Homo sapiens: one gene and its partners. The protein of the gene in region 2 binds, or shares a complex with, the protein of the main gene of each other region. Each region holds a gene or a part of one and is shown on either strand. Other genes may lie near its edges.

What was found.
Region 1: LSM6 (region 2) and SNRPB share a complex: the UniProt entries of both Homo sapiens proteins name them as parts of the U4/U6-U5 tri-snRNP complex.
Region 3: LSM6 (region 2) and SART1 share a complex: the UniProt entries of both Homo sapiens proteins name them as parts of the U4/U6-U5 tri-snRNP complex.
Region 4: LSM6 (region 2) and LSM3 share a complex: the UniProt entries of both Homo sapiens proteins name them as parts of the precatalytic spliceosome.

The regions. Positions count from the first base shown.
Region 1 is NC_000020.11:2,467,790-2,475,740, reverse strand, and holds the start of SNRPB (small nuclear ribonucleoprotein-associated proteins B and B'), read left to right. Parts: upstream 1-4,951; 5' UTR 4,952-5,050; coding exon 5,051-5,053; intron 5,054-7,951. UniProt on the Homo sapiens protein: Plays a role in pre-mRNA splicing as a core component of the spliceosomal U1, U2, U4 and U5 small nuclear ribonucleoproteins (snRNPs), the building blocks of the spliceosome.
Region 2 is NC_000004.12:146,171,559-146,178,736, forward strand, and holds the start of LSM6 (U6 snRNA-associated Sm-like protein LSm6), read left to right. Parts: upstream 1-4,159; 5' UTR 4,160-4,253; exon of another isoform or gene 4,254-4,879; intron 4,880-7,178. UniProt on the Homo sapiens protein: Plays a role in pre-mRNA splicing as component of the U4/U6-U5 tri-snRNP complex that is involved in spliceosome assembly, and as component of the precatalytic spliceosome (spliceosome B complex).
Region 3 is NC_000011.10:65,971,732-65,978,753, reverse strand, and holds part of SART1 (U4/U6.U5 tri-snRNP-associated protein 1), read right to left. Parts: intron 2,376-7,022; coding exon of another isoform or gene 2,360-2,375; coding exon 2,186-2,359; intron 2,099-2,185; coding exon 1,988-2,098; intron 1,741-1,987; coding exon 1,653-1,740; intron 1,192-1,652; coding exon 1,101-1,191; intron 991-1,100; coding exon 855-990; intron 155-854; coding exon 65-154; intron 1-64. UniProt on the Homo sapiens protein: Plays a role in mRNA splicing as a component of the U4/U6-U5 tri-snRNP, one of the building blocks of the spliceosome. May also bind to DNA.
Region 4 is NC_000003.12:14,174,336-14,181,818, reverse strand, and holds the start of LSM3 (U6 snRNA-associated Sm-like protein LSm3), read right to left. Parts: upstream 3,003-7,483; 5' UTR 2,959-3,002; coding exon 2,938-2,958; intron 260-2,937; coding exon 149-259; intron 1-148. Other genes in the region: XPC (DNA repair protein complementing XP-C cells), read left to right, coding at 3,251-3,353. UniProt on the Homo sapiens protein: Plays a role in pre-mRNA splicing as component of the U4/U6-U5 tri-snRNP complex that is involved in spliceosome assembly, and as component of the precatalytic spliceosome (spliceosome B complex).

The DNA of each region.
Region 1 (7,951 bases), on a different chromosome or scaffold from region 2:
ATTATAGGCACCCGCCACCACAGCCGGCTAATTTTTGTATTTTTAGAGATGGGGTTTCACCATGTTGCCAGGCTGGCCTTGAACTCCTGACCTCAGGTGATCCGCCTGCCTCAGCCTCCCAAAGTGCTGGGATTAAAGGCATGAGCCACCATCCCTGGCAAAATAATTCTTTAATTTAAATTACTGTATGGTTTCTGTCTCCCTGTCGAACGTAGATTGATACAAGTGTGAAGGTATATGTGTGTGTTTTTAAAATGAGGGAAAAGACATGAATTTTGACTGCATATATTTGGTGAGCCCAGAGATAAGCCAAATAAATAATGCAAGTCAAAACTATTAATTATGAATACTCAGCTGGGGCTGTGACCCTGAATCTAGACACAGAAATCTAATGGTCTACATCAGAGGTTGGCAAACTACAGCCTAAATGCCAATCCTTGCTGATCACATGTTTTTGTGTGGCCTTGAGCCACACAAAATGTAAATGGTCTTTACATTTACATTTACACAAAATGTAAATGGTCTTTACATTTTAAATGGTCGCAAAGAATTTAAAGGATAATAATATTTTGTGACATCTATTTGTATCCATAAATAACATTTTATTGGAACCCAGCCACACTCATTTGCTAGGTATTGAGTATAGCTGCTTCCATGGTACATGGTAAAGTTGAGTAATTGCAACAGAGACCAAATGGCTCGATAGCCCTAAAATGCTCTCTGCCCTTAACAAAAAAAATATTGGAAACTAACCAGTCTTATACATATTTTAAAAAAGTTTGCCCGCCCCTGATCTAGACTGAAACTTGGGACCATTTTATCAAGTAAATACCAGATGAATTGCCTGTTTAATCCCCGGCTCTGAATTCATGACCTCTTTTCCCTTATTTGTAGATTGGCAAACTAATTGAGTTGCAAGGCATCTAGAATAGCCAAAACAACCTTGAAAAAGAAAAAGGAGGAGGATTCACACTTTTTCTGACTTCATATAGATCAAAGGAATAGAATTGGAAGTCCAGAAATAAAACCATGTGTCAATGGTCAAATGATTTTCCACTAGGGTGCCAAGATTATTCAGTGGGGGAAAGAAGAGTCTTTTTAACAAATGATGCTGAGCTAACTGTATATCTACTTAGAAAAGAATACAGTTTGACCCTACCTTATACCATATATAAAATATGAACTAAAAATATATCAAAAATCTAAATGTAAGAGCTAAAACTATAAAACTATTAGAAGAAAACAAAGGGGTAAATCTTCATAATCTTAGATTTGGCAGAAAAGATTTTTCTTATTGCACCAAAAACATGAGCAACAACAACAACAAAAAGATAAATTAGACTTCATCCAAATTAAAAAACTTTTGTACAGGATATTACCAAGAAAGTGAAAAGGCCAGGCATGGTGGCTCATGCCCGTAATCCCAGCAGTTTGGGAGGCTGAAGTGGGTGGATTGCTTGAATCCAGCTTGGGCAACGTGGTGAAACCCTGTCTCTACAAAAAAAAAAAAAAATAACAAAAATTAGCCACCGTGGTGGCATGCATCTGTAGTCCCAGCTACTCGGAAGGCTGAGGTGGGAGAATCGCTTGAGCATTGGAGGTCAGGCTGCAGTGAGCTGTGATCGCACCACTGCACTGCAGCCTGGGTGATGGGGTGAGACTCTGTCTCAAAAAAAAAAAAAAAAAAAAAAACTCACAGAATGGGAGAAAACCTGTATAAATCATATATCTGACAAGGAACTTGTATCTGTAATGTAGAAAGAATTCTTACAACTCAATAATAAAAGTCAAATGGTCCAATTAAAAAATGAGAAAAGGATCTGAATGGGCATTTCTCCAAGGATGATATATAAATGGCCAACAAGCACATGAAAAGATGTTCAACATCATTAGTCATGAGGGAAATGCAAATCAAAACCACGATGAAATTGATAGCACTTCACATTAAGATGGCTTGAATCAAAAAGTCAGATAATAACAAATATGGGTGAAGATGTGGAGAAATCAGAACCCTCATACGCCACTTGTGGGAATGTATCATGGTGAAGCCACTTTGGAAAACAGTCTGGCAGTTCTTCAAATGGTTAATCAGAATTATCATATGACTCAGAAATTCCACTCCTATCTGGATACCAAAGAGGAATGAAAGCATGTCCACGTGAAGACTTGTACACGATGTTTACAGCAGCATTATTTATAACAGCCAAAAGGTGGAAGCAATCCAAATGTTCGTCATTTGATGAACTGATAAAATATGGTAGTTCCCTCCTTATCTGAGGAGGTTATATTCCAAGATCACCAGTGGATTCATGGAACGGCAGATACTACCAAACCCTATATATACTATTTTCTCTTATACATACATAGCTATGATAAAGTTTAATTTATAAATTAGGTACAGTAAGAGATTAACAATACTAATAGAACAGTTATAAAAATATACTGTAATAAAAGTTATATGAATGTGGTCTCAAAATATCTTGTACTGTACTCACCTATTTTTATACTGCAGTTGATTGTGGGTAACTGAAACCACAGAAAGTGAAAGATGGATATGGGGGGACTACTGTACATCCATACAATGGAATGTTATTTGGCCATAAAAAGGAATGGAGTATTGATACGTGTCATGACATGGATGAGCCTTAAAAACATTGTGCTAAGTGAAAGAAGGTAGTCACAAAAGACCACGTATTATTATATGATTCCCTTTATATACATTTTCTAGAATGTCCTTCATAATATTCATCCTTCTGATAGACCTGAGTGTAGGTTCAGGTCTCTGCTCACATACCACTCCTCAGAGAAGTTTCCCCTGACCACCTAGCCAAAACTGTACCCTATCCCTCTCAGTTCCTCTGCCTTTATTTATTTTTTTCATATCACTCTAATGTTACATTGCATACTTATTTATTTGGTTTACTATGTCTTTCTCAGTAGGATGTAAAGCTCCGTGAGGGAAAGGACTCTATCCCAATAATGGTGCATGGCCTTAGTAGATGCTAAATAAAAATGATTTTAAATGCATGCATGAATGAAGTGTTAGGCAGCTGGGTAAGGTGGGGGCAAATGAACAGCTGAGGAGCCAGACGGACCTATATTCCCACTCTGACTCCGCCACTTTGGGCAACATAATTCATTTCTATGAGGCTTCGCCTCTTCATCTACAGGTGACAGGAAACGGGACAACAGAACACACCCTTTAGAGATGGTGTGAAGATGGCAAAGCACCAAGGTGGAAGCTCTCCTTGCTGGGTTTGAGGAACAGCAAGGAGATTAGTGTGACTGGAGAAGGATGAATGAGGGCAATGTTGACGGAGATGAATGAGGTTGGAGAGGAGCGCAGAGCTAGATTTTATTCCATGTGTGCTGGGAAGTTTTTGGTAAGTGGAGACCAGGACATGACATCATCTGATATCCCAGTACGTTTAGAAGGATCCCTCTGGCTGCCGTGAGAACAAGAAAGGAAGCAAAGAGACAAGTTACGGGCTCGTTCAATGATCCAAGACAGAGACGATGGTGGCTATGACTAGAGTGGACGCAATGGAGTGGGTGACAACAATCATATTCAAGATAATTTGAAGGTGGGGGCCACAGGATTTGCTGATGAATTTGATTATTCGATGGCAGAGAAAGAGAAGAATGAAATATGCTTCAAATTTGTCATTTTCTTTTTTTTCTTTTTTAATCCAAGAAACTTCGGGGATGGGGAACACTGGTGAAGTGGTTTTAGAAACAGTGAATAGAATCAAGAATTCAGTTTTCAACATGTTAAATTTGGTATACCTATTAGACATTCACATCACGCTGGCAGCTGGATATAAAGGGCCAAGAGTTAAATGAAGAGACCAAGGTTAGAGGAACAAACTTGAAAGCCTTGGGTGTATATGCTGTATTTAAAAGTCATAGGAAGGGCCCAGTGTGATGGTTCACGCCTGTAATTCCAGCACTTTGGGAGGCCAAAGTGGGTGGATCAGGAGTTCGAGACCAGGAGTTGAGGTCAGGAGTTCGAGACCAGCCTGGCCAACATGGCAAAACCCCGTCTCTACTAAAAATACAAAAATTAGCCGAGTGTGGTGGCACAGGCCTGTATTCCCAGCTACTCGGGAGGCTGAGGCAGGAGAATCGCTTGAACCGGGGAGGCAGAGGTTGCAGTGAGCCGAGATTGTGCCACTGCACTCCAGCCTTGGTGACAGACTGAGACTCTGTCTCAAAAGAAAAAAAAAAGTCATAGAAAAAAAATAAATGTCATACGACTGGATGCGATTATCAGCAAATATGGGTAGAGCCCTTATTTTGTGCTAAAGTGTTCTAGGCACTACAGCAATGAGTAATACACAAAGAGAAAAATTCACACCCTTATGGATCTTACATTCTAATGGGGAGGGGATAATAAAATAACTAACAAAAATATACAGCGTGTTAGATAGCAAGAGGGAAATACAGGAGAGATGAGGATGAGGTGGGTGGGAAGGTTACAGGATGGCTAGGGAAATCCTCACTGGGAAAATGTTATTTAAGCTTAAACCTTGAAAGAGGTGAGGGCAGCAGCCTTCTGGTATACCTTGGGGACTACCATTCCAGGCAGAGGCGAAAGCAAATGCAGAGGGGCTGAAAAAGGAGCACGTCCAGCCAGTGGAGGGAAAAGCAAGAATAGTGACTGTAGAGGAGAGAGCCGGGGAGGGTGATGGGAAATGAGGACCGAGAGGTTAATGGGAAAGGCGGGGTGAAGAGAAATGAGTGTGACACAGAGCAGCTCTCAGTACGGATTTAAGCTAGGAAGGTGTCCAAACAGGAACTTAAGGCTCTCCTTACGTCAAAGCCGGATGTTAACGCCCAGTCCCCAGGCCCCGCCTCTGCTCGGCAGAAGCTCCGCTCCGGGGCCGGAACTCCAGGGCTAGTGAGCTGGACCGGAAGTAGGTTTCTACCCGACCGCATTTTACGTGGTGCTGCATTTCCGGTAGCGGCGGCGGGAAATCGGCTGTGGGAGAGAGGCTAGGCCTCTGAGGAGGCGAATCCGGCGGGTATCAGAGCCATCAGAACCGCCACCATGGTAAGGAGGGCACAGGCTGGCGGCGCGGGAGCTTCCGAGTCTGTTGTGGAGTGGGAACCGCGACTGATCGGGGAGGAAGCCGTGGGTTGGAGCCACTTAGGGCGGTGAAGGCCTGGGCCGAGGCCGCTCGGTCTGGGCGGGAAAGACCAGGACCTTGGCGGTTCGGCTAGGCATGGGGTCGAGGAAAAGGTTGGAACCGGTGTCGGAGGCCGAGGTCGCTCGGCAGGGGCGAGGGTAGAACCGCGGCTCTCGACACCGCTGTAGCCATAATTCCTGGGACCCAGTAGGCACTAAGTTAACTTTTGCCGAATAAATATATGTCCCGGGCTTCGGAGCAGGCACTGGAGCCGCAGGGGGACCCGGTAAAAGGCTCAGACTTGCGGAAGTTTGTGAGTCTGAGAAAGAGTTGGCGGAAGTGGGTGGAAGGGGCTCGTGGACCACGCTAGAGTCTCGCTAGGTCTGCTGGATGGAGAGGAGGGCGGAGGAGGGTGATGGCGAATGGAGGAAGAGCTCCACTCAGTTGCTCATCACGTTTCCGTGTTTGCCTGTGCCTGACTTCTCAGGCGCTGGGGCTACTCTCTGAAATATGTTTGCTTCCTTCACAGAGGTAGCTGGGGACACATAATATAATTCAGTGTGGTCATTCGGTAAAAGTAACGGCAGCGGGGCGGGGTAAGAATGTTTTCTCAAATAGATGGTTCCTGAGCAGATTCCTAAAAGATTAGCAAGAATGTTCCCGGCGAAAATGGGGGGAATATTACAGACCCGGAGAACTGAAGGAACAAAGGCTGAAGGGTAACAAGATTTAAAAAGTTACTGGATTTTTCTGCGTTTGTTGACTGAGAAAAAGTTGCTGGAGGAGAAAGGAAGAAAGAAGGGAAGACGGGAAGAATTGGCAGGAGGCTAGTTACTAAAGGCCTTGCATGTTAATTTTACCTCAGTGGTGGTGAGGCATGTCATTGAAGGATTTAATTTAATTTATTTTTATTTTTTTGAGACGGAGTTTTGCTTTTGTTGCCCAGGCTGGAGTGCGGTGGATCGATCAGGGTTCACTGCAAACTCCACCTCCCGGGTTCAAGCGATTCTCCTGCCTCAGCCTCCCAAGTAGCTGGGATTGTAGGTACCCGCCACCACACTTGGCTAATTTTTTGTATTTTTAGTAGAGACGGGGTTTCACCATGTTGGCCAGACTGGTCTCGAACTCCTGACCTCAGTTAATCCACCCACCTTGGCCTCCCAAAGTGCTGGGATTACAGCCGTGAGCCACCACACCCTGCCCACTGAAGGATTTTAACCAGCAAAATGACATAAGCTTAGTGGTGTTTAGAAAGATTGCTCTAGCTCTGGCATGTATATTCGATGGGACTGGAAGCAGGGAAACCTGGTAGGATATTGTTTGGATAACTGGTTAGAATAGGCGCTGGATTCATTTTGTCTAGGTTCCAACACAGCTTCCCAGCTGTGAAACTGGGCAAGTTACTTAACCTCTCCTAGCCTCAGTGACCTCATCTGTAAAATAGGGATAATAATGGGCCCAATTTTGGGGATTAAATGAGATGTACTGTGCTTATCACAGTGCCAGATACACAGTGAGCACCCAGTAAACATTAGTTGAGCTGGACCAGTGAATGTTGCCCTAAAGGTTCAGATCCCTTGTGGTTAGAAGCTGGTTAAAATGGTCATTGAATGGAAACTGAACCACCTAACCTGAGGGAGGCTCGCAGTATCTTTGTGTGGAGTCAAGTTTTGTTTTTGTTTTTTTGAGATGGAGTCTTTCCCTGTCACCCAGGCTGGAGTGCAGTGGCATGATCTCAGTTCACTGCAGCCTCCACCTCCCAGGTTCAAGCGATTCTCCCATCTCAGTCTCCCGAGTAGCTGGGATTACAGGCACCTGCCACCACGTGTGGCTAATTTTTGTAATTTTAGTAGAGACGGGGCTTCGCCATGTTAGCCAGGCTGGTCTTGAACTCCTGACCTAAGGTGTTCTGCCCACCTCGGCCTCCCAAAATGCCGGGATTGCAGGAGTGAGCCACTGAGCCCGGCCATGGAGTCAAGGTTTTGATCTGCATATTTGCAGGTTCAGAACTTTGTTGTCTGAGCTCACAGAGATGAACAGATGTCCATAGAAGGCACTTGGTGGGTTAGGACTTGGGTATAGCAGTCAGACTGATGGGAGGATGATATACAGATCAAATGCCAGGTGATTTGTTTATAGAGAGAAATACAACTGCTTAGGGTACCTGACAGTTCACAAAGTGATACCTATATAGTCACTTCTTTATTTTAGCACATTGGAACCCAGGTTATGAAAGCAGAAATGTTTGTTGGGTTAAAGACCATTATATGTCCAAACTGGTTAGCACCCTAACCATCAGAAGTTTCCCTCTGCCAAATATAGTCTTGGAGGCACACTAACAAATTCTTGATATGTGGATTTCATTTTTCACCTTGAAGCTGATCTCCTTCCTGATAACAAGCTTCTTGTTGATTAGATTTTTAGTTTCAGCCCTATTCTAGCTCTTCCTTTACTCAGTGTTTTTAATGAGATTTGAATGTTCCATAGCACTTGAGTCACATATCTATAATCTGCACACTGGTAGATGGCTCTAGTATGTATGCATTGGATTATTTTGGGGACACCCTATACTCTCATCCCTGCAACTGACACGACAAGGAGAAAGGCAATTATAATATGAGAAAGACCGATTTCAAGGGAAGAGAGAATAGCAGATTACTGGGTAGAGGTCAGGGCTAAAACAGGGTGGCATGGGAGAATTCCTAGGAAAAGGCTGTGGGTGGGAGACTGAGCTAAGAATCTGTTGAGAAAGTTGGACACATGGACAAGAACGCCATGGGAAGTTTTGGGGAGGGCCAGAGGTGCTTGGGTCCAAAAGAGCA
Region 2 (7,178 bases):
GGCCAGCACATAGCAGATGTATGAAATTTGGAGTGTTAGACATAAACTTTTATTACCAAATTATAAATAATTTCTCCCACTTATAATGTTCACCTTTCAAGTTCATCTTGATTAAAATACAAGGGCAGCTTCACACCGATTTCACTAAATTTTACAGCTGAGAGAGGTTTTCTAGAGTTCACGGTGGAGTATAAAGCATCACAGCATTTGGGAGATTCTCCTTCCAGGAGCTCAGACTCTGATCCTATCTCTTTTAAAATTCAAGTCATGCCAAAATGATGGCTGATGAAGTCCGAACATTATTTAAACATCTCACATGTTACATCTGAAACCAAGCGCCCATGATGTAGAATATATCACTTCCTTGGGTAAGCAAAACGACATACTACTTTTTCTGAGAAATTTGCCCACCAGTCAATGAGCTTGTATCACTTCTTAGAAGGTATTCAACAACCAGAGAGTGTCTGTCTGTTTCCTTATTTTCTTTTTTCCCCTCCCTCCCTCTTTCTTTTCCTTCTTTCTTTTTCTTTCTTTCTTTCTTTCTTTCTTTCTTTCTTTCTTTCTTTCTTTCTTTCTTTCTTTCTTTCTTCTTTCTTTCTTTCTTCCTTCTTTCTTTCTTTCTTTCTTTCTTTCTTTCTTTTTTCCTTCTTCTTTCTTTCTTTCTCTCTTTCTTTCTTCATTTAAGAAACAGTCTCGCTCTATCATCCAGACTGGAGTGCAGTGGCATGATCTCATCTCACTGCAACCTTAGCCTGTCGGGTTCAAGAGATTCTCATGCCTAGCCTCCCAGGTAGCTGGGATTACAGGCATGTGCCACTACACCCAGCTAATTTTTTAATTTTAAGTAGAGACGGGATTCAACATCTTGGCCAGGCTGGTCTTGAACTCCTGACTTCAAGTGATCCGCCAACCTTGGCCTCCTAAAGTGCTGGGATTACAGGTGTGAGCCACTGCCCCCGGCCTCTCTTCATTTTCTATAACAAATAATTTTCATATCCCATGATTAAAGGCAGATAATGGTGGCCCCAAGTATCCAAAACTAGCACATCACAGCTTATGAGCTCCTATTGTACAGTCTGAAGGTCCAGGAAAGGTTCAGGTCCATGCCAGCACTTCATACCAGTTAATGCATTGCTCCAACAAGACCAGCCAGTATTCTTGGAAGCTTAACATCCATGTTACATATTAAAATCTGCTTTGGAGAGTGTTGGTCAATCCAATTACATGTTTGTATTTATCATCATCATCATCATCATCAACAACAACCACAACAACATCACAATACATTCATCTACATGTTCACAGGGCTGTTGGGTGTTTAATAAGCTAGACATGAGACCATCTTTTATGAATATGAAACATTGAAGGACATAGTTATTTAAAGGCATATGTACTATAGAACTGTAGAAGGGACAAACAATGAAGTGGCAAGAGTTCTCTTAGCATTTATATATCTGCATTTGTCTATTTTAAGCATAATAGCTTCAAGAGAATGAAAAGACAAGCCATAAACTGGGAGAAAATATTTGTAAAACACATATCTGATAAAGAACTATTATTCAAAATATACAAAGGACTCTTAAAACTCAACAAAAAGAAAGAACAAACTGATTCAAAATTGGGCCAAAGACCTGAACAACCAAAGATATACATATGGCAAATAAGTATATAGAAAGATCCTCCATATCATATGTCACTAGGGAATTACAACTTTAAACAACTATGAGATAGTCACTAAGCAGCTATTAGACTAGTCAAAATCCAAAGGACTGGAAGCACCAAATGCCCATGAGGATGTGGAACAATGGAAACTCTCATTCACTCCTAGTGGGAATGCAAAATGGTACAGCCACATTGTAAGACAGTTTGGCAGTTTCTTACAAAACTAAACATACCCTTGCTATATGATCTAGCAGTCATACTCCTTGATATTTGCCCAAATAAGCTGAAAACTTATTTCTATACAAAAACCTGCATACACATATTCATAGCAGCTTTATTCATAACTTCCCAAACTTGGAAGCAACCAAGATGTCCTTCTGTAGGTAAATGGATAAATAAACTGTGGTACATCCAAATAATGGAATATTATTCAGAACTTAAAAGAAATGAGTTGTCAAGCCATGAAAAGGCGCAGAGGGGTCTTAAATGCATATTTCTAAGTGAAAGAAGCCAGTCTGAACAGGCTACACAGTGGGGTGGTGCAGTGTATGCACCACTAACTGTGTACGGTATGATTCCAAATATATGATATTGTGGAAAAAGGCAAAACTTTGGAGACAGAAAAAAGATCAGCGGTTGCCAGTGGGGAGGAAGGGATAAATAGGTGGAGCACAGAGAATTTTTAGGGCAGTGAAACTATTCTGTATGATACTGTAATTGTGGGTACATTTCATTATGCATTTGTCAAAACCTATAGAATGTGCAACACCAAGAGTGAACCCTAATGTAAACTTTGGCCTTTGGATGATAATGATGTGTCAGTGTAGGTTCATCAGTCCTAACAACTAAATGAAACTAAACTACATAAGTTAAACTAAAGCTTGCCAAAATATTTTTATGACTTTAAGGCTCCTTAATAAATTAATGTTTACATTCAGGGTTTTGAAGACTAGTATTCACCAAAAGTCTTGCAGTGTTTTCTTTGCATCATAAAAGATGCTGAAAGCAAAAACCTGGGAAATACGGAAAATTGCCTTGTGAGTTAGTAAAAGTCATTTATAAGCTGCTGAGGGGCTTTTGGGAACAGCCACACTTTTTATAAGCTTGTTAGCTCATGAATTAATTCAGGATGCCCACCCCGTGTGTCAAACTGGGCCCTTACCCAGCTACTCCCCTTAGAGAAGGTTGCAGCTGCTCAGCAGATGAACTAGGCCCTTAAAACTCCTCATGGCTCCCTACCCACCACACTAGTGTTAACGGCTCGATTAGGGCTCTGTAGGAAAGGGAAAGAAGTTTGAATCAAAAATTTTCTTTTTTTTTTTAATAATTTAAACAATCAGTAAGGAATGTGCAATTTGATGTCGTTTGCAAAGAAAGTTTTTAGGAACAGGGCTTTTTATCCTATTATGTTTGTTCTTTGCACGTAATTATTTGATTTAAATGGTACTTTTCTTAAAATTTTTATTTACATTGTATTTTATATTGCAAGAACTTCAAATACAGCCCTCACAATAAATCAGTAACTGTTCGGTCTTTATCCAAACTGAACTTTTATAGAAGGATATAAGGAAGTCTCTATTCTTTAACAAATCATATCCAGTTGTTTTCTGTCCCTGATATCAATCAAAAGTTCATTTCTTCTGCCTTTAACCAAAAGAAGTTTACAAGGGAGGAACTCTTTATCTTCGAAAAAAATTTTGCATCTTAGATTTTATAACACCTAATGGGGTTAAGGATCTGTGTTGAAAGATCTTATCACTCTGTGTATAGTGTTACAAATCATAAATATAATTAAAGTATAAGTTTTCAACTGATGAGAGTATATGTGGAGGGGGAAAAACGAATCAAGTCCTGGTGTAACAGTTCTCTTCTTTTTCCCTTTCAATTCCATTAATAGAAAGAGTATTGAGAATTCATGCAAAATTCCAAACCAAGTTCCCATAGTAGCACTGAAATAAGTCTGCACACCATTTCCAATAGGAACTAGTAATGTAACACAATTAATGTCATTATAATTTGGAGTTACTTGAGTGATTTTGATTATTTTTGTATCAATTAACATTGCCATGGAAACAGTCTCTTGCTAAAATGGCTTAAGTCTTCACACATTTAATCAATATCCAGAGGTAGATTTAAAGACTTGAGGTGTTTCATTTATTTATTTATTTGCTTTAAACTATTCAAGGACGTTTCTGGGTACACAATGCCGTTACTTAAACAGTAAATTCCAGTTTCCTATGACTTCAAGTTATTTTTTACACTTCTGTAAATAAATCCTGCCCAAAAGATCACTTCTAGTTTCCTGGAATTTTGTTTTTGTTTTGTATTGTATTTGTTTTGTACTCAGATTTCTGTTAGAGGAACTCCACTGCACCAATTTTGCTACTAGACAAACCAGGAATCTTGGATTTGCGCGCTTTGGTGCTGACAGGCTTTTTCGGCCCCAGCGGGCTGCCGTAGCAGAGAAGAGCACTGATTGGCTGAGGCAGAAAAGTGCCCCTGCCTCGGCGCTTTCGGTTTTGGCTGGGATCATCCGCGGCGGCCGGGCTCGTGGGGCGCCTGGAGTGAGGGTTCTGGTTCCCGCCGGCGAGGTGAGCCGCACCGCTGCGCGGGCCGACGACGGGGCCGGGCGCAGCCCCAGGTTCGGTGCCCCAGTGTTCAGTCGCGCTGTGGAGCGGCGGCTGCAGCGGCCCTAGGCCGGGCGAGGCAGCCCCGGAAAGGGCCTGCGGTGAACAGGCTGGGGCTCCGGGAAGGGACCGCTGGGTGGCGGGTCCCCGCGAAATGCCGCGTCCAAGCTCTCCGCGCATGGAATGGCTGGGAGAGGTCTGATGGTGGGCGCCGGGACCGCCCTCAGCGAGGCGCCTAGACTGCGCGGAGAGGAGCGGCACCGTCCCGGCTCCTACCGAGTTGGCGTCCGAGATCAATTCAGGTTGTTGAAGTTCCCCAGGGAGCCCCGACGCTAATCCCAAGATTCGGCGGGAAAGCGGATCCCGAACCCAGGCCTAGGCTTCGCCTGTCTTCCAGGAGGGCTTCAGGGAATTGCGAACCCTCTCCTACATCGGGGTGGCTGCGCCTGACCACAGGAATTAAAGGCTGGACTCGCCTGTCTTACCAAGTTGTCAGGTCGAGGAACCCGATTGTATGGTCTTAAGTCCTATCGCCCAAGGTTTTCTGTGCGTATGCGTGTCCGCACACCTGCATAGCAGGCATTTTTAAGGTGTGTAGGATTAAGATGATGCGGATTACCCTGCCCCACTGCTCTTAGTAATACGTGACTATTGTAGAAAATTGCAAACATAGAAGACTTTAGTGAAGAAAATAATATTCACTGAACCCTTTCACCTACGATCATTTTCTCTTGTATGTGCTAGCTTCTACTTGAACTAAGAGTGTACATGTTTAATCACTTAACAGTGTAGTTTTCCACTTCCATTTAAAAACTCTTCCTAAATATTATTCTAATTTTGTATCTTCTTTTGATTGTCCTATCATTGTGGGTCCCAGTTTAGGTCCCGTAAATTATTCAGTCATTTCCCGATTGTGGGACATTAGATTGTTTTTGAATTTTTACATCATCTTAGCATCCCAGATAGTGCTTTGATAAACTCTTTTCCCCCTATTTTTTAGATTATTTCCTTGGACTAGATTCTCAGAAGTGAAATTATCAGATTAGATGCTGTCATCTGAAAGGTCTGTTTTAGGCCTTCATACACATTGCTGCAGTGTTTTCCAAAAAAGTTTTAGAGATGTTTGGTAATTTTACTTGCTTAAATATTGTGCAGAAATCTTGAGAGGCTTGTGTTTGTGGTGTGTGTGTGTGTGTGTGTGTCACTGGCGTTAATGCGTTAGACTACCTGAATGTTAGGGCAGGAAGAGACTTAAGTGGTCATCTGGCATAACTCCCTTATATTGCAGATGAGGAACCTGGGGCCATGAGAAGTGAAATTATGAGTTATCCAAGTCACACAGCTAATTAAGTAGCAGAGCTGGGATTAGAACTCAGGTTTCCTGCCTCCCAAGTGAGTACTCTGTGCTGTATCAGGCAGTCTCTCACTGAACTGTGGCATAGTAGATACTAGAATTTAAAAATTTGTTTACATCACCTGGGTTATTCTCTCCTTTTAAAAGTGTACTAACAGATTTTAATCATCGGAGAGACCTGTAACACTGAAAAATTGGAAAGTGATCATTTTCATGGCCAAGACTAGAAATCCATTATTTAGAATGGCAACCCCTTCAAGATTTTGACAGTTGTTTTCAGGTTCCCTATATGTTAGAATAAAACACCCCTGATTAATTATAACCTACACTCCATCATTTGGTTAGAATGTAGCTTTTGGTTATCATTTGCGGTACCTTGGAGATTTCTTTAAAACTCCTCACTTTAAAACCAAAGAACAATTTTTTTTATTTTTATTTATTTTTATTTATTTTTTTATTTAGGGCTTATAGCAGAGATTGTCAACTTCCATTGACATTTTGTGCTGGGCAGTCCTTTGTTGTGGAGGGCCGTCCTGTTAGTTGTAAAATGTTTAGCAACATCCCTGGTCTCTACCCACTAGGATAGCAGTAGCACCACCTTCCTCAGTCATGACAGTTCAGTGTCCCCAGATATTTCCAAGTGTCCCTGAGCAGGGTGGGGCAGGGTTGGGGGTACTGCCCCTAGATGAGAACCATTTGCTTATAGAAATTATCTGGAGAACTTTATAAAATGTAAAATACAGTGCCTTTACCTGAGTAGACTTCGGGAAAATCTGCATTTTAACAAGCATCTCTAGATTTGGAAACAGCTGGTTCTTGAATGACACAAACAGTTGTTTTCTCAGTTTTTGGTGCTCATAATAGAGATTACTTGGTTAGTATTTGTTGAAGTACATGCATGATCCTACTGGTCACTGTATCCATAGTTTGGGCTGATGGGGGCTGGACAGGGATTTTGCTTGGCACTGGCCTTGAATGTCTCTTCCACAGACTTGGGTAGTGTGCTTAGGTACCAGGGACACCAAGTGAGTAAGATATTTTCCCTGTCCCCAAGAAGCTTTAAATTCGCACGGGAGACCAGTCAGCAAATGGAAAAATTACGAAACAGCCTGATAAGGGCCATGACTGAGAGTGGAAAGAGGTGCTCTGAGTGGACTCACTTCGCCTTTGGGAGAGAGGGAGAGAAGTAGCCCCTGCTGCCGAGGAAGGAGGGATTGGTATGAAGCCTTCAAAAGACAGCGAGGAACTCCACTGTGTCCGAAGGGAGGATTTAGAGAGCTGTTCTTCTGCCTATCTGATCGCCTCCTCAGACACTGATCTATTAGTCTAGTGCTGCAATTACTTGGATTGTAATGTTTCCTTGCAATTTTTGCTTTTCAAATTCTTTTCACCCTAAACTGTAAATACGCCAGGAGTAGGTAAAAACTTACAGGTAAACATTGCCAAGAAATAAGGATTTTCATGTCTTCTGCTCAGTGGCATAACTCAAATCACATGAGATAGATTTCTTTGCATCTGTCCATTGTATTTCTCTG
Region 3 (7,022 bases), on a different chromosome or scaffold from region 2:
CCCACACACCAGCCACCCCTGCCCCGGCAGGCACAGGGCCCCCCACATCCCCAAGGGCACCCACCGCCTCCTCGTCCAGCTTCTTCATCCGCCGCTCTGTCTTCATCTTGCCTGAGCCCTTGCCATGGAAGCGGTGCGACAGCTGCCGGAAAGCCTGGGGACGCGGGGCATGAGAGGAGATGCAGGGCCCTGGGTGGGGCCGGAGCCACCTGTGCCCACAAGGTGTATAATAACAGGGCGGGTGTTGATTGACCCCAATGCCAGGCCTGGGGTGCAGTGGGAAGGGGATGGGAAAAGAGCACAGACGCTGGCACCCTGCAGGGCCCCAGCAGAGGCCGGGAGACCAGCTTGGCTAGTGGATGCGCTGCCATGGGGGCAGAGCATGGGGAACCTGGAGACCTGCCACGCAGGGGCTGGGCCTGGACGCTGGGGCTGGGGCTGGGGCTGCAGGGAGACAAACCCCAGAGAGCAAGGGGGCAGCTGAGTGGTAGGGCAGGACGGTCGGGCGGCCTACGAGAGTGCTGGAAGGGCCTGGACGCTGGAATGGCCCTGCGGGCCAGGAAAGCCAGTGAAGGGCTCACGCAGGTGAGGACAGGAGGGCAGAGGTCCCGAGTGCCTGTCTGACCCTCCTGCCAGGCTTGCAAAGAGACTGCTGTGCCCACTAGAGACAAACTGAGGCACAGCCTTCCTCAGCCCTGAGGGCCCCCTCCCCATCCGTGGCATTCACCAGGCCCCCAGCCAGAGGCTGGTGGAGCCAGGACCCTGGGGCATTGCATGGCCCGGGGCATTGCATGGCCCTGGGCTTGGCCTCCCTGTGGCAGGCCGGGCCTCCGCCTGCAAAAGGCCCTGCTCACCTCCTTGGGTGTGAGTTTCCGGCCCGTCTCATCCACGTATTCGATCTTAACGTCGGGTTTGTAGCCGTCCTTCTCCTTGAAGTCCTGTGTGAAGCCTCGGTATTCCTCCCTCCGGCTGTACTTGTCATCGATGGCCCTGGCCCGAGACAGAGGAGGCCTTAGTGTGAGGAGCTGCCGCCTGCTGTGGTCCCGAAGCTCCAAGCTGGCACAGGCCCCTCAGCCCTGCACAGGCCCCACCACACTCACATCTTATCCTCGATGCAGTACACGGCTGAGGGCAGCGACTTGTTGGGGGCCTTCACCCGGGCCACCTTCTGCACTGTGGTCTCCAGCAGCCCTAGGGATGGAGGGGTTGTGAGACTCCCAACCCCTCGAGAGCCACAGCTCCAGGGCCGCCTGAGAAGGCAGAGCAGGCCCTGTGGGGGCACCTCCCTTTCCTTGCCTCTGGAAAGCCATCAGGCCTGTTCTACAGGCAAAGCAAAGATGCAGAAATGAGCCCCTTGCCAAGGGTCACTGGCCAGGGAAATGGCAGAGCTGGGGTCCTAACACCAGGGCTCTCTGTGCCACAGCTGGAACAGTTTCAACTCCCCTCTCCTTCCCCAAGCAGGTGTGGAGCCTCAAAGGCAGAGCAGACGGACAGATGCCACAGTGGAGGGGAAGGAGTGGCTCTGGGCCGGACAGCTGGCTCCAGCATTGGGACTGAGAGAAAGGGGCAGCAGAGGGGACCGGAGGGGGCCCTGCCTGCACCTGCAGCAGCACCCAAGCCCACCCAAGTCATGGCTGCCCTGAGCTCCCTACCTTTGTTCTGACACAGGAGCAGGGCAGCTGCCAGCCCCCTATTCACGATCGGTTCCTCGTCCAGGATGGTGGTGGAGGAAGCAGAGAACTACGGGACACGTGGCGGGGGTGGTTAGCAGGCCATACCGGCTCTTCTCAGCCCCACCCACTGGTCACCACCTGCCAGGCACCAGCCCTCCACAACATTTAATTTCCTCATTTACTCCTCAGATCGCCCTGGGAGGTCTGCAGAGCCCACTCTGGATGAGGAGGCTGAGGCTCTGGACACCGAGCCCGGTGCTCATCTCCAGCTTGAGCACCCCCAAACGCCCACCCCCCAGCGGCGCGGCCCTCACATCCTGCTGCTGCTTCTCCTCGTCCAGGTTCACCGTGCTCCAGCCGATGTTCTCCTCCCCGTCAGATTCGGAGCCACCGTTGGCTGAGCGCTCCTCATCCCGTTCAAAGTCCTGGGGCACAAAAGACCAGGGTCGGCCCAGGCCCCAGCCAGCCCACCCAGCCGAGGGAAGCAGAGGGCGGGGCCGCCCCAGACGCACCATGAGCTCCTCCTGCTCCTCGCGATTGCCAGCCAGCCCGTAGGTGGGGATCTCCCCCAAGGTGCGGCAGAACTCGGACGTGGCGTTGAACACGATGGCCCCCTTCCGCTCGGGATCCTCATCCTCCTCCCAGCCCCGCTGGCGAGACTCCAGCTTCTTCACAATCTCCACCACCTGGGGGAGGGAGCGGCTGTGGGCAAACCCAGCAGTTTCTGGGGTGATGCCATTGAGACCCAGGAACCTAAGGGTCCTCCCTGGCAGCAGCCAGACAGGCCACGCCCACAGCCCATGCAGGCCCAGCTGCTATCTGCCGCCTAACTCCACTCTGCACCTCTTTCACTGGGGTCACTCTTCTGCTCCAAACCCATCAATGGGTTTGGATGCCCTTTGAATGAATACCCAACATCCTACAGGGCCTTCCTGACCAGGCCTGTGCCAATCCCCCTCCAAAGCCCCTCACACACTACCTCAGCCTCAAACTCCTTCCTCCAGGCTCCCTCCTGCCACCTGCCCCTCCCCCGACAAACTCCGGTTTCAGGACTCTAGACAGCACTTCTAGAACCCGCAGGGTGGTGAGGTGGCCCACGCTTTTGACTTCCCACAGCCCAGCTTCTCGCTTCCTGCTTCACCAAGAAAGCAGGTTCCGTGACATGGGAAGAGAACTCACTCATGCTGCCAGCACTGAATCCAGCGACCCCCACACGGGCACCAGCACCCTCTGCTTTCCCTCCTGTCGCAGATGCCCAGCCACACACAATGATTACCATCTCCCCTCTTTAAAAAACTTCTCCCTCAACCCTGCAGCCCAGACAGCAAAGTCCTCACTCCTCAGTGAAGGTTCGAGTCACTATGTCCACTTCTGCACCCCTCTTTCATTTTATATTACATTCATTTTTTTAAAAAAATCTTCTGAGGCGGGTGGACTGCTTGAGTTCCGGAGATCGAGACCAGCCTGGGCAACATACCCAAATCCCATCTCTACAAAAAACATAAAAATTAGACATTGTGGTCACACACGCCCATAGTCCCAGCTACTGGGGAGGCTGAGGTGGGAGTACTGCTTGAGCTTGGGAGATCAAGGCTGCCAAGATCACACCACTGCACTCAAAAGAGTGGGCAAGAGTGAAACCCCGTCTCGAAAAAAAAAAAAAAAAAAAATTCTTCCAGGGGCCGGGTGGTTGCTCACATCTATAATCCTAGCACTTTGGGAGGCCGAGGCTGGAGGATCACTTGAGCCCAGGAGTTCGAGACCAGCCTGGACAATAAGGTGAAGCACAGTCTCTACAAAAAACACAAAGATCAACCAGGCATGGTGGTGTATGCCTGTAGTCTCAGCTACTTGGGAGGCTGGGGTGGGTGGATTGCTTGAGCCTGGAGGCCGAGGCTATGGTGAGCCGTGATCTTGCCACTGCACTCAAGCCTGGGCAACAGAGCAATACCCTGTCTCCAAAAAAAAAAAAAAAAAAAGTCTTCCAGGACATCCAGGAACATTTGTTTGTTTGTTTGTCTTTTAATTTTTATTTCTTTTTGAGACAGAGTCTCACTTTGTCGCCCAGGCTGGAGTGCAGTGGCGCGATCTCAGCTCACTGCAAGCTCCGCCTCCTGGGTTCACAGCATTCTCCTGCCTCAGCCTCCCGAGTAGCTGGGACTACAGGCGCCCGCCACCACGCCCAGCTAATTTTTTTGTATTTTTTTTCAGTAGAGATGGGGTTTCACCGTACTAGCCTGGATGGTCTCCATCTCCTGACCTCGTGATTTGCCTGCCTTGGCCTCCCAAAGTGTTGGGGTTACAGACGTGAGCCACCGCGCCTGGCCAGGAACACTTATTTTTTAATGAACATTGTAAACATAAAACGAGGTATATCTAATGCATCATATGCTACTTATTTATTGAGACCATCTCACTCTATCACCCATGCTGGAGTGCAATGGGGCGATATAGGCTCACTGCAACCTCCACCTCCCAGGTTCAAGTGATCCTCCTCCCTCAGCCTCCTAAGTAGCTGGGACTACAGGTGCATGCCTCCACAACCAGCTAATTTTTGTATTTTTAGTAGAGACAGGGTTTCACCATGTTGCCCAGGCTGGTCCCAAAACCAGCTTCAAGTGATCCACTCACCTCAGCCTCCCAAAGTGCTGGGACTATAGGTGTGAACCACCACACCCGGCTGATATGGTTTTTTTTTTTTTTTTTTTTGAGACAGAGTCTCACTGTTGGCCAGGCTGGAGTGAAGTGGCACGATCTTGGCTCACTGCAACCTCCACCTCTCGGGTTCAAGTGATTCTCCTGCCTCAGCCTCCTGAGTAGCTGGGATTACAGGCATGCACCACCATGCTCGGCTAATTTTTTTTTTTTTTTTTTTTTTTTTTAGTAGAGAGGGGGTTTCACCATGTTAGCCAGGATGGTCTCAATCTCCTGATCTTGTGATCCACCTGCCTAGGCCTCCCAAAGTGCTGATATTACAGGTGTGAGCCACCGCACCCAGCGGCTGATATAGTTTTTAAAACATTAACTAAACACACACCCATGTCCCTCTCCCTGGGGCTGGGGCAGCATCACTAATGCCCTGCCCAGACTTGAGTGTCCCCTCCCCATCCATGGTCATGACTCACCGGCTTGTCTTCATGGCTTTAGCACATAAGGACCTGCCCCTGAACAGTTATTTTGTTGTGTATTAATTATTCTATAACCTGAGTCACACTGTATGACTCTTCTGTGATTTGTTTTGTAAAAAAATCTGTGCCCCTGAGAGTAACCCTGATGCACACGGCTGTAGCTCATCAGTTTCCACTATGGAATCACAGCCCGTGAGCTGGATGCTCCTTGATCTGGCTCTCTAGCCCACTGAGGATGGACTTTTTTTGTCCCAAGTACTGCGGCTGCAGGCCCACTGACAATGTCTCCTGGTGCACATGGGCACACTCGGGAGAGGTGTGGGGTGGGCCCCGGGCACGCACACATTCCCTCTCATCTGATTAGACTCCTGCCCATGGCTGTGAGTAGCGTGGCTGAGGACTCTGGCCGCTCCATGTCCTTTACTCCTACTCGCTACTGTCAGGCTTGGACCTTTCTGCGGAATTGTTGGCAGGTGGCAGGTGCCTCACTGTTTTGGTTCACCTTTCTGTGATCCCTCCTGAAACTGGATTCACCGGGTATTTTCCTGGTGAGTTAGGCTTTCTCTTCTGTGAACTGCCTGTCTTATCTACATCTTTCGCCTATTTTCCTGTTGTGTTGATTTGTTTTGTCTGTTTGTATACTCTTGACACCAACCCATTCTTGGTGGTATATATGGGCAAATATCTTCTCTTTTTGGTCTGCCTTTTTATATTCTTCATGGTATGTTTTGTAAAAAAACAAAAAACAAAAAACTTACGTTCTCAATTTCTTTTTTTTTGAGACGGAGTCTTGCTCTGTCACCCAGGCTGGAGTGCAGTGGTGCGATCTCGGCTCACTGCAAGCTCCGCCTCCTGGGTTCACACCATTCTCCTGCCTCAGCCTCCCTAGTAGCTGGGACTACAGGTGCCCGCCACCACGTCTGGTTAATTTTTTTGTATTTTTTTTAGTAGAGACAGGGTTTCACTGTGTTGACCAGGATGGTCTCATCTCCTGACCTCGTGATCCGCCCGCCTTGGCCTCCCAAAGTGCTGGGATTACAGGCGTGAGCCATCGCGCCCGGCCACGTTCTCAATTTCTATGTAGTTACACGTTCACTTTTTTCTTCATGGTTTCTTGAAGAAACTCACCCATGGAACCTGTGGGTTTCTTGGTTTTTTTTTTTTTTTGAGACAGGATCTTGTTCTATCACCCAGGCTATCATAGCTATCTGTGATATAGTCAGCTATAGTCTATCATAGCTGACTATAACCTCGAACTCCTAGATTCAAGCAATCCTCCTGCCTTAGCCTCCGGCGTAGCTGAGGCTTCAGACACATGCTACCATGCCCAGCTAATTAAAAAAACATTTTTAGAGATGGGGTTGGTAGGGGGGGTGGTCTTGCTGTGTTGCCCCAGGCTGGTCTCAAATTCCTGGCCTCAAGCAATTCTCCTGCCTTGGCTATGCTGACAACTTAAAAAATCTTTTCTACCAAAAAGTTATAAATGTAATTTCCTTAATTTGATTCCGAAATGTGAAGTTTTTACTTTGAAGTTCTTAATCTATCTGCAAGGTGTGAGGTATAAACCCAATTTCATTTTTTCCCCAAATAGATAACTGACTGTCCCACGCCCACTCGCTGCACTGACGAGCGACTCTTCCCACTGGGACACGATTCTGTCTCGGGGCCCCGCTGTCTGGTCTCTCTGTTCTGTTAGTCTATCCTTATGCAATCCCACACTGCCACAATGCCCCTACTTTATCCAATTTCAGAATCATTTTCCAGCTTCCAAAATAATCCCTATTGGGATTTTTACTGGAGTTGCATTTAACCTAGAAATGAACTACATGAGATGGACATCTTGACAATATATTGTCCTATCTAGGAATTGTGTAACCCCTAAATTCATATCGGGAAGCCCTAACCCCCAATGACTGTATGTGGACAGAGCACCTTTAGGAGGTGGAAATTGCAGTGAGCTGAGATAGAGTCACTGCACCCCAGCCTGGGTGACAAAGTGAGACACTATCACAAAACAAAACAACCCCTCAATTCCAAGGATCCTTTCTGTTCTCTCCAGCCTTTCTTTCTAGCTCATTGACTGTATTAACTTCAATCCAGTAATTCTTCAACCACATCACGACTCCAGGCCCTGTCCTCACACCCATCATTCTCTGTTATGTCCCTCATTACCCAGTTTAGACTCAGGGGGAAATCAACAGAACCTCTCCTTTGTGAAACC
Region 4 (7,483 bases), on a different chromosome or scaffold from region 2:
CCGCTTTATTTGGCTTATGTGATATGGGTGACTTTCCACCACCCTCTCTTCCTTCAAAATACCCTTTCACTCTGGACAGGTTTTACATTTCAAGGGAGTGGGGGTAGGAAGGAATCTGATTTCAAGGTAACTTGATAAATTTACTTACATGTAATCTGCCTCGAAGCTCTCGGTCATTTCTCATTTTCACATAAATTCGCTCATCTAGGCTGAGCCTGATAAGATCCAGGGGCTCCTCTACAGTGTTGGTAGTTTGTTGCTGATAAAAGAAACAGGATTAGTAATGTAGTACTAGAGTCAGAGTAGTGCTTAAATCACTGCTATGCTGTGTGACCATGGGCAAGTTATTTAACCTTTTTCTGCCTCAGTCTCCTAATCTGTAAAATGGAGATAATAGTGTCTACCTAATACTGTTTTTGTGAGGCTTAAGTGATATACATGAAGGCTTAGAACAGAGCTTTTCACATAATACGTGCTATATAAATGTAGGTTAAAACACACATACATGAGAAGTTACACAGCAAAATAATCATGACTATACTTTGTTCCCTCAAAATCCAAACTGCCTGACCCAATTTCAGGGCATAGGGTCTCAGGGACTTTAGCTTTATCTCAAATATTATGTAATCATTGGAAAAACACTCACTTAATGCCTACCATACACTAGTCAGAATGCCAAATAGAGGTGTAGGTTTATGGGAAGATTATGAATTCAGCACAGGTTGAGTTTAGGCTGCCAACTGGTGAATAAGATAAATATATTTAGTAGCCAGTATAGAACACTGGTTGAAAGCACTGGCTTAGCCGGGCATGGTGGCACATGCCTGTAGTCCCAGCTACTCCAAGGGCTGAGGTGGGAGGATTGCTTGAGCCTGGCGAGGTGGAGGTTGCAGTGAGCCAAGATCGTGCCACTGCACTCCAGCTTGGGCAACAGAGTGAGACTCTTGTCTTTTTTTTTTTTAAAAAAAAAAAAAAAAAAAAAAAAAAAAAAAAAAAAGGCAAGCAAGCACTGGCTTTGGAGTCAGGCAGTCCGGGTTCAACTCCTGGCTGTGACCTGACATTTATGAACTGAGATTAAAAATCATGCCATCTGTAATTCTCAGATTCTTCATTTGTAATTGAGAAAGCCACAACCTTCTTTCTGGGTTCTTATGAGGATTAAACTAGTTAATGCATTTAAAAACAGTGCCAGGAAAACAGAAAATATTAATATTTAGAAATGGTTCCTATTGGCCGGGCGTGGTGGCTCACGCTTGAATCCCAGCACTTTGGGCGGCTGAGAAAGGCAGATCACCTGAGGTTAGGAGTTTGAGACCAGCCTGGCCAACATGGTGAAACCCCATCTCTACGAAAAATACAAAAATTAGCCAGGTGTGGCGGCACGCACCTGTAGTCCCAGCTACTTGGGAGGCTGAGACAGGAGAATCACTTGAACCCAGGAGGCAGAGGTTGCAGTGAGCTGAGATCACGCCACTGCACTCCAGCCTGGGCGATAGAGTGAGACTCCATCCAAAAAAAAGAAAAGAATAGAAAAAAAAAGGAAAAGAAAAGATTCCTATTAATATTATATTATTACAGAACTGCTGGAAACATTGGTTTTAGAGGTCAGGGCTAGGATGACTTGGGGTCACCCACATGGAAGGGATGGTTGCAGCCGCTAAGAGTTAGAAAGATTATTCAAGGAGAGCTTCTTCAGTAAGTACACAAGGCCAGTGGAGGAAGGTAACTGAATTGGTAACAGGCTCTGAAGATTCAAAAGGCCTGATGAGAGAAAAAAATAACCTAACTCAACTGGTCCCTATGTCCCTCAGTTCAACAAGTGTTTGTTAAAGGATCAGATAACCAACTGTTAGATTACAATGATAGAGAAGTCACAATCCCCACCCTCAAGGAGCTCATTCTACTGTGGAGAGGCATACAAATAATTATAATACTGTAAGAATATGCACATGAAAAAGCCCTACTGCTACCTAAGCCTCTGTCTGGGATGCCCACTGTCTGCTCTTTTCATCCTGTAGCTTTAAATATTGGCTTCTCAAAGAGGCTTCCTCTGATCATCTAACTCATTCACTCAAATATTTTTTGAGTGTTTCCAGCACTGTTCTAAACCCCAAAGACAAAAGAATGAACAAAACAAAATCCCTGCTCTTATGGCATTTACATTCTAGTGGGGAGAGATTCACATTAAACAAAGATGCATACATTTAATATGAAAAAATAACTCTCTATGAAGAAAAATGAGGCAGGGTAACCAGAGTAGCGGGAGTGCTATTTGGGCAGAAGTCCTCTCTGAGGAGGTCAGATTTCAGTAGAAAGTTTAAGTTGTGGCATGATCTCCAAAGATATTTGAGGAAGAAAAAGACCAGGTGAAAAAGCTTCTAGGACCATCTGTTATTCTGCATACCAGTTCCTTGTTTCCTTCACAGCACATCACAGTTCCTGGAAGTCTTACATATTTATATTTACTTTTATCTGTTCTCCTCGCAAATATAAGCTCCAAGTAATGGCAAGGATCTCTTATATGTCGATGTCAGTGTCCCTGGCCCTTAGAACAGTGCCTAACCATACAAAGCTGATGTTCACTCTATCTGCTGAATGAATAAATAATTGTTGCGCTCACTAATGATAACAACTCCTAACTTTATTACCTGGCTTTCTATTGGAATCCTGACAGCTCCATGAGGTAGCTAAGGATAATAATCTACAGATTTAAAAAAATGAAGCGAAGAGTGTGAGAATAGTCATCAGGTGGGCTTCTAACAGGAAAAGGTCTCAGGGCCTACGGCAAAATTCGGAGGGGGGGTTACGGAAAGGACAGGGTGGATTAGGCCATGGTGACTTGGAGAGAGGAGGCACGACTGGCCATTTTTCCTGAGTCTGGAAAAAGCAGCCTAGTACAAGAAGCTCCTTCGAGCGACCTCCTTAAAATACACTTACCTGGTCTACGTCGTCCGCCATGTTTCAAACCCTGCGCCCTTTCCCGCCTCTCGCGAGAACACAAGAGCAACGTCAATCTCCGGAAACGTGAGGATACAATACACCGGAAATAGAGAGAAACCTGTTGTGCTCTTTCCTGCTTCCCGCAGTTTTTTAGTGGCCACGGGTATGGGGTGGAGCTTCCTTTAGGGGCGTGACTAGGCCTCCAACGAAGGGGCGTGGCCAAGCGCACCGCCTCGGGGCGGGGCCGGCGTTCTAGCGCATCGCGGCCGGGTGCGTCACTCGCGAAGTGGAATTTGCCCAGACAAGCAACATGGCTCGGAAACGCGCGGCCGGCGGGGAGCCGCGGGGACGCGAACTGCGCAGCCAGAAATCCAAGGCCAAGAGCAAGGCCCGGCGTGAGGAGGAGGAGGAGGGTGAGAGCGAGGCCCAGCGGGCTTCGCGGGAGACGCCGCCGGTGGGCGGAGGAGGCCCAGAGGCAGGGCGGGAGTCCAGACGCGGAGGCCTGGTGGAGGTTGCTGCGCGCGTTCCGCGCCGTGGGGGCAGCCCGGCAGGCTGCGGCCGGCCCTCCCCGCTGTCCCCGCGTCTTTGTCCTGCGCACCCAGAGCGGTTTCCCGCGAGCTTCGCCCGATCCAAGCTCCTGCGTAGCTTTTTTCCCGCTCCCCGTTGTCCAGAGGATACAGATGTTCAGGGTTGAACTCGGAGAAGGCAGTTATTTGTGTCCCAGGAAGACAGACGGACGGACCAGGACGTAGAGTGATGCAGTGTGCTGACTCCCGAATGATAACTTCAGCTGAGTCTCACCCAGAGTTCCACAGTGGGATCCCACCTGACTTCCCCTCATGGATATTTGATAGGCTTCTTACATTTGTCATGGGCAATGCAGAACTCATGGTTTTCCTCTTTAAATCTATGCTTTCCTCCGTTTTTCCAGTCTCAATACTTGTTATAAAGCAAAGCCCACCTTTTTCTTATGTCCACACATCCAGTCCGTCAGCAAGTCCAGTCAGTTCAGCCTCAAGAGTGTATTTCAAATTTGTCCACTTCTCTTCATTTCCATGACCACAGCCCCTGTCCAAGTCATCATCACCTTTCAGTTGAGTGACTGCAGTTTCCTCTTTACTGGCCTCCCAGCTCTGCATCCAGCAACCCAAATAATCTTAAAAAAAAAAAAAATCATGCCCTGCTCCTGCTTTAAACTCCCCTTGGTTTTCCATTGCTCTTAGCTTAAAATCCAGTTGTTTTATCCTGGCCTACAAGATACTACATGTTTTGGCTCTTGCTACCTCTCCTGTTTCTCTTACCACTTGTTTCCTTGCCAGATACCCTCCTTATTGGCCTCCTTTCTCTTCCTCAAATATGCCAAGTTATTCCTTGAGTCTTTTCCTTTGATGTTCCTTCTGCCTAGAGTGAACCCCCCATGGCTTTTACCAGGGCTGATTTTTTCTATTTCTTCAAAACTCAAGTTAGACATTCCTTGAGCAAACTAAGGTGGTCCTTCCCAGATACCCCGCGGATACTAAAACCTGTGATGCTCAAGTACCTTATATCAAATGGCCTAGTGTTTCCATGTAACCTATGCACATCCTCCGACATACTTTAAATCATCTCTAGATCACTAATAATACCTAATACAATGTGGATACTATGGAAATAGTTGTCATGCTGTATTTTTTAAATTTGTATTTTTTTTCCCGAAATATATTCATCTGTGGTTGGTTGAATCTGTGGATGCAGGGCCCGTGGATTGGTAGGGCTAAATGCTAAATAAATATTTTATTTATTTTTTATTTTTTTCGAGACAGTGTCTCACTCTGTCGCTGAGGCTGGAGTGCAGTGGCGTGACCTCCGCCTCCTAGGTTCAAGTGATTCTCCTGCCTCAGCCTCCCGAGTAGCTGGTGTTACAGGTGCCTGACACCATGTCCGGCTAATTTTTGTATTTTTGTATAGATGGGGTTTCGCCATGTTGGCCAGGCTGGTCTCAAACTCCTGACCTCAGGTGATCCGTTTGCCTCGGCCTCCCGAAGTGTTGGGATTACAGGCATGAGCCACTGCGCCCGGCTAGTAAATATTTTAAATAATTGCAAAATGCAGGCTGTAGAAGGAATTTCTGGGTCTCCTGAAAAAACTGGGTAGATTAGACTAGGTAACCGGCAAAGGCTATCACACTAGATTCTGTTTCTATACCGGTTATAAATTCATCATCCATTAGGAAATAGTGAAATGGTAATAATTCGTAAACTTAGGAGGTGATTTACCTCATATGTAATATTACGAGTTCCATTTTATTCACTCATTTACTCATTCAAATAACATCTTTTGAGTATCTACTATGTGCTGTACATGAATGAGGTGACATGAGAGATAAACATATCTTGGAGGATCATAGAGTAGTGTTGACATGACATTTACATGTAAAACATTCAAGGCAAAGTGTGCTAAATATTGTGGAAGAAGGTACAAGGCTTTGTAGCTTCCAAAGGATTAATCAAGTTTGACTGGCGTGATCGGGGAACGCTCTCTGAAGTAGTTTGATCTGTGATTTAAAGGATGGTTGGTATTTTAGCAAGGGGTCACAAAAAGGGGCCGGTATTCTAGTCAGAATGTAATTTGGATATATGGCAATTAAAAATTTACGGTTTTAATCTGATGGAAATGCTACCTGTATTCTTCCCAGCTCAACACTTCACCTCGGTTCCAGCTTGGTAGAGCTTCAATTCTTAGTTTTATGCACTTGGGTGAATTATTTTGGACAAATGTTTTAGCCCTTCTGAATTTCCTCTGTGAAATGTAATAACTGCCTTGCGGGGTGGCTGTGAGTTTTCAGTGGGATAGCATATAAAGCCAAGAGCTTTAGCTTTACCCATGTTAGGTAAATTAGTTGGGCTAGCTGGTGTCATTCAGCCTAAACGGAGGTAAAGATGCACCCAAGTTTATTCTGCTAGCCAGAGGAGCTAGCAGTCAGTTCCCAAGGCAGCTTCCAGGATCTGCAGAGTTACAACCTTTGTTGTGGTTTGGTGGTTTTGTGGGGAAGCATAGACTTAGCAAGTATGGTTTGGGCTGCAGATGACAATAATTTGGTGACTGTCAGTGTAGTTGCTAACACTGTAATAGTGTAGGTTTTAATAGCACCCCTGTACATGCAAATGAAGGTGATACTTGGCTGCTTTTGACAAATAGGAGAAAAGAAAACAGGCTTCCACATGATTTCCTTTGTGTTACTAAAGCACCTCTGGTTTCTTTTCATTTCTTCTCTGTGTTAACACCTTCAGTGATATCCATTAATTCCTTCAACAGCTGTTTATTGAGCGCCTACTATTTTCACACACTGTTCCAGGTACTAGGATAATATTGAACAAGACAGATGAGGCACCTGCTCTCATGATTATAATCTGGGGGGAGGGGTACTTAGAGCAGATAACAAGTTAAAAAAAAACGGATTCACATGATGATAAGAGCTATCACCCTGTGCTAAGACTGCTGTGATAAAACTTATTTGGGTACATAGCAGAAAATGCTTCTATAGATGAAAAGAAAAACCCTCAAACTTATATGGGGCTGGGGGAGAGGCAGCTAAATGGGAATCAGTGTCAGGGAAGGCCTTTGTAAGGAGGTGGCATTTTGAGGCATTTAGTGTAATTTTGAGCCATTCATAGGAAGTTCTGGGGAAAAGAGTTCTAGGCAGAGAGAACAGTGTGTTTAAACACTCTTAGGAGGGAATGAACTTGGCCAGTTGGCTGGACACAGCGAGCGAGGGGCTGGGTAGGAGAAGTGAGCAAGGGCCTGAGCTTGGATACCAAGCTAAGGAGTTGGAATTTTATTCTGAGTGCTATGAGTTGCTGCTGGAAGGTTTACTCCGGTGTTCTTATTAAATCCCAGTAGATGGGCAAGCAGACCACAGTGGTAATTCCTGCCCTACTGAAAGAACACTGAACTCAAGGAGTCTGGTTAGGCATATTAGATAACTCAAGATTTTGGAGAGTCCTGGAAAAGAGTCTCTAGATGCTTAGGGACCAAAAAATAGCAGAGAACAGAAAGTCACCCATATTTCTGCCATCCAGAAATAGCCACCATGAAATAGTGGTCTGTTTCCTTCTAGTCTGTTTTTTATATAGCAGAAAGCATACTGTAAAATCAACTTTGCATGAGTAACATTACATCATATATCGTTTTTCTTTATCTTAAAGGATGACTCAATTATATTTTGTTGTGTGGCTCTGCCATAAGTTACTTAACAATTATCTCATGGTTGGACATTCAGATTATTGTTAGATGCTTTTGAATACTATGAACATCCTTTTGATTCAGAGTTTTTGTGTTTCCTTTATCCCCCTTTCCCTTTTAACTCCTCTACCTTTCTCTTCAAACGGAAATAAAAGCTGTGCTTTTTAACCAACTAGAAAAGTTTGTGATGCCTCTGAAGTATCCTCCTACGTGCATTTTTTTAGATTAGTAGAAATTGAAGTGTTTAGCATCTTTGCCTATTATTAGAGGGCTAACTACCATTGTAAGATCCAGAAATCTTGATTTTAGGGGCACCCTCCTC